Linked DNA regions of Homo sapiens. The protein of the gene in region 1 purifies or fractionates together with the protein of each later gene. This does not show direct contact. Each region holds a gene or a part of one and is shown on either strand. Other genes may lie near its edges. The genes, in order: ZNF7, DDI2 and SOX5.

What was found.
Region 2: the proteins of ZNF7 (region 1) and DDI2 purify together in Homo sapiens (co-immunoprecipitation; one large-scale study listed by IntAct). This does not show direct contact.
Region 3: the proteins of ZNF7 (region 1) and SOX5 purify together in Homo sapiens (affinity purification with mass spectrometry; one large-scale study listed by BioGRID and IntAct). This does not show direct contact.

Annotation. Positions count from the first base shown.
Region 1 is NC_000008.11:144,837,407-144,840,915, forward strand, and holds part of ZNF7 (zinc finger protein 7), read left to right. Parts: coding exon 1-101; intron 102-571; exon of another isoform or gene 572-3,509.
Region 2 is NC_000001.11:15,651,892-15,655,544, reverse strand, and holds part of DDI2 (protein DDI1 homolog 2), read right to left. Parts: coding exon 3,650-3,653; intron 1-3,649. UniProt on the Homo sapiens protein: Aspartic protease that mediates the cleavage of NFE2L1/NRF1 at 'Leu-104', thereby promoting release of NFE2L1/NRF1 from the endoplasmic reticulum membrane.
Region 3 is NC_000012.12:23,544,124-23,547,776, forward strand, and holds part of SOX5 (transcription factor SOX-5), read right to left. Parts: intron 2,302-3,653; coding exon 2,193-2,301; intron 1-2,192.

The DNA.
Region 1 (3,509 bases):
CAAGCCTGAGCTGATCTCTCGGCTGGAGCAGGGAGAAGAGCCATGGGTCCTCGACCTGCAGGGAGCAGAGGGGACAGAGGCACCAAGGACCTCCAAGACAGGTGAGGCTTAGATCCCATCGCAGAGAAGCCCTGGGGTGAGGAGAAACTGCAGGAGGGGCCTCACAACTGTGGGTAGCTGTGGGTGAGTCGCGGGGGCTACACTGGGATGCCTGGGAATGCTACTGGGGAAGCAGCATCCAGCACCTAGAAGGGAGCATAGACCCGTTGTGGGGCTGCCTTGGGAGAGGCCAAACTGCAGAAGAGCCAAGACACAAAAACCCATGCATTTCCACAAAAACGGAGCTTGTTTTTGAATCATGTCACATTTTGTTCTATTTTTAATTTTACTCATACTTTCGTTAAGCAAAGATACAAACCTATGGATCCAAGTGAAGGGTTAGGTTTGGCATTCAGTAACCTCTCCTCGGGTAAGCATATTCCCTGAGGCAGCTCCCTTCAGACCCTCTCAGGCTCCAGGAGTGCATTACTTTCCTGTGGCTGCCATAACAATGAACCACAGACTAGGAAGCTTAAAACAACAGAAATTTATTGTCTCACAGCTGTGGAGGCCGGAAATCTGAAACCGGGGGGTCAGCAAGCAGGGCCGTGCCCCCCTGTGAAGGCTTTAGGGAAGGATCCTGTCCTGCCTCTCCGGGCAGCTGGTGGTTTTCTGGCAGTCCTTGGGTTCCTTGGCTTGTGGATGCGTCCCTCACTCTGATCTCCGACTCCTTCACACGGCTGCCTTCTCCCTGCGTGTCTGTGTTCATGTGGCCATCTCCTTAGAAGGACACCAGTCATGGTGGGTTAGGGGCCACCCCAGTGACCTCATGGTGACTAATTAATCTGCAACGACTGTGTTTCCAAACAAGGTCACATTCTGAGGTGCTTCAAGTTAGGACTTCAGCCTATCTTGGGGTCCTCAGCCCTAACCAGGGCACCCACTGCCTCCGGCATCAGCTCCTGCTGGGCAGGCGCCCGGCCTGGTGCTCTGCTCCCCTGCTTAGCCGGTGTGCTGCCCAGCATGACAAGGGAGATGGGTCTGCGTGCATCTCAGCTGCAGAAAGGAAGCCCCTCACCTCCCTTTCAGTTGCTGCTGGGTCATCACCGTCACTCCTGCAGCAGGGCAGGACCAGGTCCTACAGAGGCCACCGGCTTGTAGGGGCCTCGGGAAGCAAGTTGGACAGTCCAAAGTTGTGAAAAGTAGGGGCCGTGGAGCCGGGCATGGTGGCTCACGCCGGCCATTCTAGCGATTTGGGAGGCCGAGGTGGGCGGATCACGAGGTCAGGAGATCGAGACCATCCTGGCCAACACGGTGAAACCCTGTGTCTACTAAAAATACAAAAAATTAACCAGGCGTGGTGGCAGGCGCCTGTAGTCCCAGCTACTCGGGAGGCCGAGGCAGGAGAATGGTGTGAGCCCAGGAGGCAGAGCTTGCAGTGAGCCGAGATTGCGCTACTGCACTCCAGCCTGGGCGACAGAGCGAGATGACGTCTCAAAAAAAAAAAAAAAAAAAAAGCAGGGGCTGTGATCTTACTTCCATTCATATGCGCCTAGGGGCTGTGACCTTACTTCCATTCATATGCGCCTAGGGGCTGTGACCTTACTTCCATTCATATGCGCCTAGGGGCTGTGACCTTACTTCCATTCATATGCGCCTAGGGGCTGTGACCTTACTTCCATTCATATGCGCCTAGGGGCTGTGACCTTACTTCCATTCATATGCGCCTAGGGGCTGTGACCTTACTTCCATTCATATGCGCCTAGGGGCTGTGACCTTACTTCCATTCATATGCCCCTAGGCAGCTTCAAAGGACAAGGAGGGTTTCTGAGCCTCTTCACGCCCTGTGGGCCTTGCAGCCGCCCAGGAAGTCTGCATGTGATGTGTGGGAAGAGTGGTCAGGAACCCTGGCCTCACTGGCTCTGCTGGCTACTCCCATGTGATCCTTTCTGCTCAGTCTCCCTGAGAAGGAGGTTCAGCTATAAGGTGGCCCAGTTAAAACCCAGCCGCCCATTAAAATGTCTCCAACATGGACAGGAGCGTTTAAAGAGGGTGCCATGGCAGAAAAGCCAGCTACAGTTGGCAGAAATAGTTCAGTGGGTTTATATGTAGCAGGTGGTCCTCACTGTGATAAAGCAACAACAAAAAAATAGAATCCCACAGTAGGTGAGAGCTGCTGTTGATGGACCCAGCACTTGCTCGCAGACCTGAGAGTCCGGGGCAGGGATGTAGCCTCTTAGATAAAACATGCAGCAGCACAAAACCAGAATACATGAAGCAAGGCAGAAATGCCCAGATATGTTACTTGTCCCCAGCTGGTACAGTCAGCATCAGATACTGAAAGATATTGGCCCAGAGCAGTGGAGGAGCGGCCAGGTCCCAGCTGTGCACCCCCACGCTTTTGACCACCACCGTGCCCCCTGCTGGGTGGTTCCTGGCATCCCCCAACAAAGCCTTGCTGTCAGCTTGGCCCTGCTCTCTCTGCCGCTGCTCTTTATTTTTTTATTTTTTGAGATGGAGTCTTTGTTGCCCAGGCTGGAGTGCAGTGGCATGATCTTGGCTCACTGCAACCTCTGCCTGCCAGGTTCAAGTGATTCTTGTGCCTCAGCCTCCCAAGTAGCCGGGATTACAGGCGTGAGCCACTGCACCTGGCCACCCTGCTCTCTTATCTTCACAGCAGGGGAAGGCTTGGGAGGAGTGTCAAGCAAGCCCTGTTGAAAGAGCAGGCATGCTGAGGTGGTGTGGTTGTGCAGGGAAAGCAGCACATGAGGACCAGGCCTGGAGATGCCTCCTGTCCTCACAGGCCTTGAGCATCCCTGCTACACAATGAGGTTGAAAGGGCTTCCTGCTCTGATTCTCCAGGACTGATAGGAAGACCTTTGGAGATCCCTGGAAGCCGGAGACTCACCACCAATGGTTAGGAGTGGGCAGGAACCGAAGCTTGAAGCCCTGTAACTGGGCTGTGCATTCATGTGGGGTAGACTCGGGCTGGTTATAGCTGTGGCTGCGTGGTTGTGGTTGTGAACGTGATTGTGTCGTGGTGGGGACCGTGGTTGTCATGATCATAGCCGTGTGTTGTGGTTGCATCCTGTCATGGTTTGATCACAGACATCAAGGAGATGTCTGACCTCAGCAGAGGTGCCCTCTAGGGTTACAGAGTAGGACAGAAGCCTGTGCTTACTTGGAGAGTCCAGAAGGAACGCAGATGTCTGGAAGGCCTCCTGGGGGCCTCCAGAAACTTGCAGCCCCAGGGAAGAAGTCAGTGTGGTCTTAGAGGTGGCCACGCACAGCCCAGGGAGAAGCAGGGGAGGTGGCCAGGTGCAAGTTGGCAGCAGCAGCCAGGAGGCAGCTGAGGGGGCTGGGTCCTGCTCAGAGAAGCCCACCCCAGGGAGTAGCCATGAACGGCCTAGGTGCCCAGTGCTCTTCTGAGCTCACGTAGTAAGTCCCTTGGCAGCTCTTCCAGCCTTGTT
Region 2 (3,653 bases), on another chromosome or scaffold:
CTGACCTCAGGTGATCCACCCTTCCTCAGCCTCCCAAAGTGTTGGGATTACAGGCGTGAGTCACTGCGCCCAGCCGTGGTTTTTTTTTTTAGAAACAAGTGTTTTGCCATGCTGCCCAGGCTGGTCTCAAATCCATAGGTTCAAGTGATCTCCCCACCTCAGCCTCCCAAAGTGTTGGGACCACAGGCATGAGCCACCATGCTTGGCCAGAAAGAAGTTGTTAACAAAATACTTTCACCTACTATGTCCAGAGTATTTATTCGGATGATATTAGGAAGTCGATGTTCTAAATAAAAAGGACCTGATATGTAGAATTATTTCATTACTTAAACATTACAAAAATTAGCACAAGCTATACTACCAGCAACAAAAGGTTATTTAGGTAAAAAGCCATTTCTTTTTAATTCTTTGAAGTTGGTACATCCCCTTCACTAAGCCTGGAAACATATGTGTATCTGTTTTAATCTTCCAAACTTTTACTAAAATAAGGTAATTACCAAAAAAGGATAACTGTTATTAGTAGGTTAGAAAACACTGCTATTATCAGCTAATGTTTCTTAAATAATGGCACCAAGACTGTGGAGGTTAAAAGGAAAAAAAAAAAAAAGACATTTCATAAAATGATAATATATCCTCATATTAACACACAGCATCACGACTAAGATGATAAATTACACCCCAAATGCAAAACCTTGTAAGGAGCTATGTCAAATTCATTCAAGCTTACCTTGCAGGTAAGATTAAAACTATTAAGTTAGTCTCTGTCTGGTTGTTCAAAATTCCTCCCTTCCTACAAAATACTTAAGTTACAACCAAAACTGTAGTTAATATAAAAACTTGAGCCAAAAAGTGATGGGAGTCAATTCTGTTGTTTTTTTTTTTTTTTTGGACACAGGATCTCACTCTGTCACCCAGGCTGGATTGCAGTGGCAGCGATGATGGCTCACAGCAGCCTTGACCTCCTGGGCTTAGGTGATCCTCCCATCTCAGCCTCTCAAACAGCTGAGACCATAGGCGCGCCACCATGGCTGGCTAATTTTTTTTTTAAATTTCTTGTAGAAACAAAGACTCACTATGTTGCCCAGGCTGGTTTCAAATTCCCAGGCTCAAGTGGTCGTCCTGCCTTGGCCTACCAAAGTACTGGGATCACAGGCATAAGCCACCACGCCCTGACTCAAACTGTACTTTATACATAAAACTAAGCCAAAAGGTGATGGAGTTGATTCTGAACAAAGTCAACCTGGAAAACTCCATCTGCCACCCACACCCATTCTAAAGCTCAATGACAGACATCTGAATGTTCTCCAGTAAAACAGTGGCAAAAGCTGCCTGGCTGTTTTTAAAACTCTTACCACTTTCGTCTTTAGGATAAAGCTATTCCCTGAACTTGTAACTCTTAATAATTTACTGTACTAGAAAAAGCAATGTGTGATACTAGTCATACTGATGAATAATGCCAGCACAAGACTGTAAAATAACCCAAACTCAAAAGTAAATTCTATTCAGCTTCTAGAAAATACATCCCAGAGTCACCGTTCTATAATAAATGGGGGATTTCAGCAAAACTGTTACCCCATTTTACCTAGAAAACTTAGCTCCATCATTACATTTAAACAAGCTAAATAACTGAGACTTAGAAAAAAGTATTAGGTAGCATGATTTCAATATATACAGTGCTAATATGGCCTGATGACAATACTGTAATCTCACACCATAACACTGCATTTTCAGTAACGTTCAATTATGCTGGTCAGGCATGGTGTCTCGTTCCTATAATCCTGTCATTTTGAGAGGCTGAGGCGGGTGGATTGCTTGAGCCCAGGAGTTCAAGACCAGCCTGGGCAACATGGCAAAACCTCATCTTTACAAAAAATACAGAAATTAGCTGGACATGGTAGCAGGCACCTGTAGTCATAGCTAGTCAGGAAGGGGAGATGGGAGGATCAGTCTGGGTGACAGAGTAAGACCTTGTCTCAAAAAAAAATTTTTTTTTTAATTAAGTAAATAAAAATTTATACTTCTTTTTGTTGGTTCTTCTGTCTTCGGTGAAGTTAGGGCTGCTCACACACAGTAGCAATGATACTTTTCAAAATAAACCAGGCCTAAGAGGCATGGTGGCTCATGCCTGTAATACTTTGGGAGGCGGAGGCGAGAGGATCTGCTTGAGCCTGTGAGACTGAGACTGAGGCTGCAGTGAGCCATGGCTGCGCCACTGCACTCCAGCATGGGCAGCAGAGCAAGACTCTGTCTATATAAATAAAATAAAATAAAATAAATAAAATAAAATAAAACAGTCCTAAGAAAAGGAAAGAAATAGGGAAATACTGTTGGACTCAAAAGTTAACATCTGCTTACTGTCAAAATTTTCTTTAGGAAAATCACAAAAACAAAAACATCCAAAAAAAACTTCCTAAAAAAATTTAGGAAGCTTCTAAAATGTGTCTAAGCAAAATAACCCCAATCTATCTTAAACACAGCAATGGACTGAGCTGTTCTTAATCTGTTGAAATACTAAAAAACAGAATGTTTCTCTTTTTTATGAGATAGTGTCTCACTCTGTTGCCCAGGCTAGAGTGCAGTGGTGCCATCTTGACTCACTGCAACCTCCGCCTCCCAAGTTCAAGCAATTCTCCTGCCTCAGCCTCCCAAGTAACTGGGGTTACGGGGGGTGTGCCACTGCACCCTGCTAATTTTTTTTTAATTTTTATTATTATTTTTTTTTGAGATGGAGTCTCGCTCTCTTACCCAGGCTGGAGTGCAGTGGTGCGATCTCAGCTCACTGCAAGCTCCGCCCCCTGGGTTTATGTCATTCTCCTGCCTCAGCCTCCTGAGTAGCTGGGAATACAGGCGCCTACCACTACGCCCGGCTAATTTTTTGTATATTTAGTAGAGACGGGGTTTCACCGTGTTAGCCAGGATGGTCTCCATCTCCTGACCTCGTGATCCACCTGCCTCAGCCTCCCAAAGTGCTGGGATTACAGGCGTGAGCCACCGCGCCTGGCCAATTTTTATATTTTTAGTAGAGATGGGGTTTCACCATGACCAGGCTGGTCTCAAACTCCTGACCTCAGGTGATCCGCCCCCCCCCCCCCCCCTCCGGAGCCTCCCAAAGTGCTGGGATTAACAGGCGTGAGCCACCACGCCGGGCCAGAATACAGACTTTTTCATTATTGTATTAAGAGATGGGGTTTGGATATGGTAGCTCACACCTGTAATCCCAGCACTTCGGGAGGCCAAGGCAGGAGGACTGCTTGAGCCCAGGAGTTGGAGATAGGCCTGGACAACACAGCAAGACCCTATCTCTGCTAAAAATAAAAAATTAGCCAGGTGTAGTCCCAGCTACTCAGGAGGCTGAGGTGAGAGGACTGCTTGAGCCCAGGAAGTCAAGGGTGCAGTGAACTACAATCATGTCACACTGCACACTGCACTCCAACCTGGGTGACAGAGTGAGACAATGTCTCCAAAAAAAAAAAAAAAAAAAAAAAAGGAAGATCAAAGAAGGAGGTTAAGAAGACAAATAATGAACACATCTACTACTGGACCATGAGACTAATTAAAAACTGGAAAGGTTCCTACCCCTTCTGAAGCCCACACTTCCCGGGCTTACCCATCAATAACAAGTATTGAAGAGTTTGGCCATCCCAAATACCTGC
Region 3 (3,653 bases), on another chromosome or scaffold:
CCCCCTAATATTTAAAGTTATCCAAAGAGTCCCATGGACAGTCACATTTCAATCAGTAAGATTCACAGATGATAAAACACAATTCAAGAGTTAACAACGATAGCTTTGGAAGCTGCATTCACTCCTCCAGCCTTATGTGACCCCTTAGAATGGCTTCAGCAGATTAAATTGCTTCCAAGATACTTGAGTTTAGGCAAAGAGAAAATAAGGAGAACCAGTAGAACTCTGACAGTAGGTTTTCACTGGGTATTATCACAAAATAAGTAGATGTATTTTGATAGTATCCAAAACTTTAAAAATACTTTGGGGACTTGTAGAGACTGTATTATCAACAAAAGCACTGCTTTTCTTTTCTTGCTTTGTATTCATTCCTCATCTTTTCTTTATTTTTAAATTTGGAGACACAGGAATCAAACAAAATTGCCCAAACTTGAAGACCTCTATAGCAGCACATTCAAAACATAGCATACCTGTTGGTGAAGTTTCTCAATATTTTTCATTAATAACATGCTCTTTGATTTAATGAAAAGTAGAAAATATTTCACATACAAGCATGATTGAATTTAGGTAATGACAGCAACAAAAACTTTGATGTGTTAATGCTGATTACTGTGGGTATATTTTATCATGCTAATACAACTTAAAATTTATGAAATGTGTTATTACCCGTAATTGTCTTTTATTGACAAAATAAGTGCAAATATATGGCAACATCTTCCTAAAATGGGTTTGTAACTAGCAAGTGATCATTTGCACATCTGCCTTTTCTTGTTCTTACACCTTACAGCAACATAAGCAATAAAATGAACATTATGTGTCTTCATCAAATCTAAACAAGCTCTTTAAATGTACATAGGCTAGGTTTATCTTAGCTAAGTGGAGCTGAAAATAGAAGAAAATGTTTGCAACATTAGACCCAGAAAAATGCAAATTGAATCCAATTGAGTAAAATTCAGTTTTGATAGAATTACGTGTTTCAACGTTCAGGTTTGTTTAGTCCCTTGATTAGTATAGACCTGGTCTTAAAAGTAGAATTGGCCCAAGGCACAGAGTAAACAGTTGTGTATATTGGAGGATTCAAGGGGACCCCCTCTCAAAGTATGCATCTCACTGGTTTGCCTTTGTGCACTCTTCTCTATATGCAGGGAACTTCCCTGTAGTAGTAACAAAGTTGAGGGCGGTACTGCCAAAGGAATGCTTAAAATGCATGGATGCCACCTGACAGTAGAGAGATGTTCCCGGTCAGGGTATTGTATAAGAAGAACAGCACTTCCTTCTTTTTCCCTCTTTGCTACGCTATTAAAAATCAGAGTATCAATTTAATTTCTTCTCACTGTGGATGTTTAGAATGTTCAGAGATGATACAGAAAACAGAAGTCTGAAGGCCTATGAGAAGGGAGCATAAAGCTGTGCAGCTGGTTTCTAGTTAGGTTATAGAGAGTGGGCCCGACACTTGACTATGTAGTACATAGCACTAGGGAGAAGGGTTCCAAAATGTAAGAAACTATCGTGGAAATGTCCTCTGAGCCATGTATTCTGGTGAGGGCTTGACAAATAGAAACTTAAAAAATGAGCCAATAGAAACAAATTTCTGAAAAAGTTCATTTTGGGTACAAGAAATAGGGAAGTGAGGCCGCATGCAGTAACTCACGCCTATAAAACTAGCACTTTGGGAGGCTGAGGTGGGAGGATCACTTGAGCCCAGGAGTTTGAGACCAGCCTGGACACCATAGTAAGTAAGTCCTCATCTCAAAAAAAAAAAACAAAATTGCTGGGCATGTTGGCATGCACCTATAATCCCAGCTACTTGGGAGGCTAAAGTGGGAGGATCACTTGAGCCTGGGAAGCTAAGCATTTTGAGCATTTGCTTTAGAATCATGCCATCTCGAATTTAATTCTTGCCTCTGACACTTAGAGCCCTGTGACCTGGGGAAAATGCTTCAAAACTCCTGAGGCTCAGGCTCTTTCTCTGCAATGGGACTTATCCTAGGTTGACTAGGAATTAAATGAGACGATTTCTGCAAAGCACTCAGCAGAGTGCTTGGCACATGGGGACTGCTCAGTATATGTGACCTCTTATTGTAATGATGAGGTATGAGGTGGCTGTCTAGTCTATTTTTTAGCAGTTTTAATTGGCACTACCTAGACACTTTCTTGCATTATTAGAATATGTATGAACAATTTTCACAAACCATCAGAATCTCCACTCAGATTGAAATCCATCATTGCATGGCTAAATTTTCCTTCTTCATTCTGTTTAACTGCCAGTTGCTGAGTCAGACTCTCCAGTGTTGTTTTTTCCTTTAAAAAAATTATAATGAGAGATCAGTCTAGGAATTAAAATTATTTGAAGACTTTCTTTTTTTGGGCCACATATATAATACATTAACTCCTGGAAAGGATGCAATGTTGATATATTCACCTTTTTACGTTCAGCACATTAACCTGAAGTCATTAAGGGGATGATCAGCACGATTTTTGAAGGAACTCTGATTCTCATAGACCCCTATAAAGTCTTGGCGTTTGGGTTTGGTATGCCTAAGGGATATATGCCGGGATCCTTGGAGACAACCTTCCCAAATTACAAAATGTGCACAGAAATTTCATGGAAGCAACCTGTTTTACATTTGGAATGTCTGCTTTATTTTTGGCCAGACAGTAGAAGTATAGGAGTGGCGTGAAGCCCAGAGAAAGTCTTCCAATAGTCAGGTGACCAAATAATAGAAACATAATTCACAGTAGTGCCCTCTGGTTGCCATCTTCCCAAATGCCATCTGCATTCCTCATGCAAGGGTAATGAAGACGTTTAAATATTCATTGCTAATTGCTTGTCAAGTCTCTGTACATCCAATGTGAGTGCCTGCTACTTGGACCACAATTTGATTTGGATTGCTAAGCCAAAATATTGAGTTGGCGAATTATTTGAGATACAAATATACCAAAATTAGATCTACAGAGACATCAAGTTGTTTAAGCATGCAGTGCACGATTCACATTCATGGAGAACATAGCATTTCAAAATAAATTATTTTTAAGAAAAATATAATGCTTAATCTAAACCATATGAGACATTACTGTCAAATTAAGAAACTGGGTGACTTTAGGAACAGAAAAAGCATATAATGAAACTTGATAACTTTCTCGTGAACTCTCCAGCACTGCTCTGAGGATGATGTAGTACCAAACAGCACCAAAACAGTTTTAAGAAATGCATCCATTGGATCTCATAACATTATCTCAAGTTTCTTTATAATTATTCACCTCATTTTCTGAGGAACATAGTCATGAATCATACTAGTGAACGACATACACTGCAGAACTGCTATTGACACAATAAAATGTTCACAGAAAGTAATCAATGATGTAAGATAATTGTATTACAGGTAAAGGGCCCAACTAATGTTCCCACCAAGAACTAATGAGATATTGAAATTCTTAACACAGTACATGCTTTATCTCAATGAAGTCTCTGACAATGTGACAACTGTACATACTAAATTAAAAAATCTCTTAAGTCAGTGGCCTTGGAACTCCTGTACTCTATTCATCAAATTATGTACATTATTTAATAGAAAACTATTTTTAAATTGTCAATCAGTATAAAATACAGTAGAGAAACTGGAGACAAAATAGTTTATATTAACTTTAGTTCT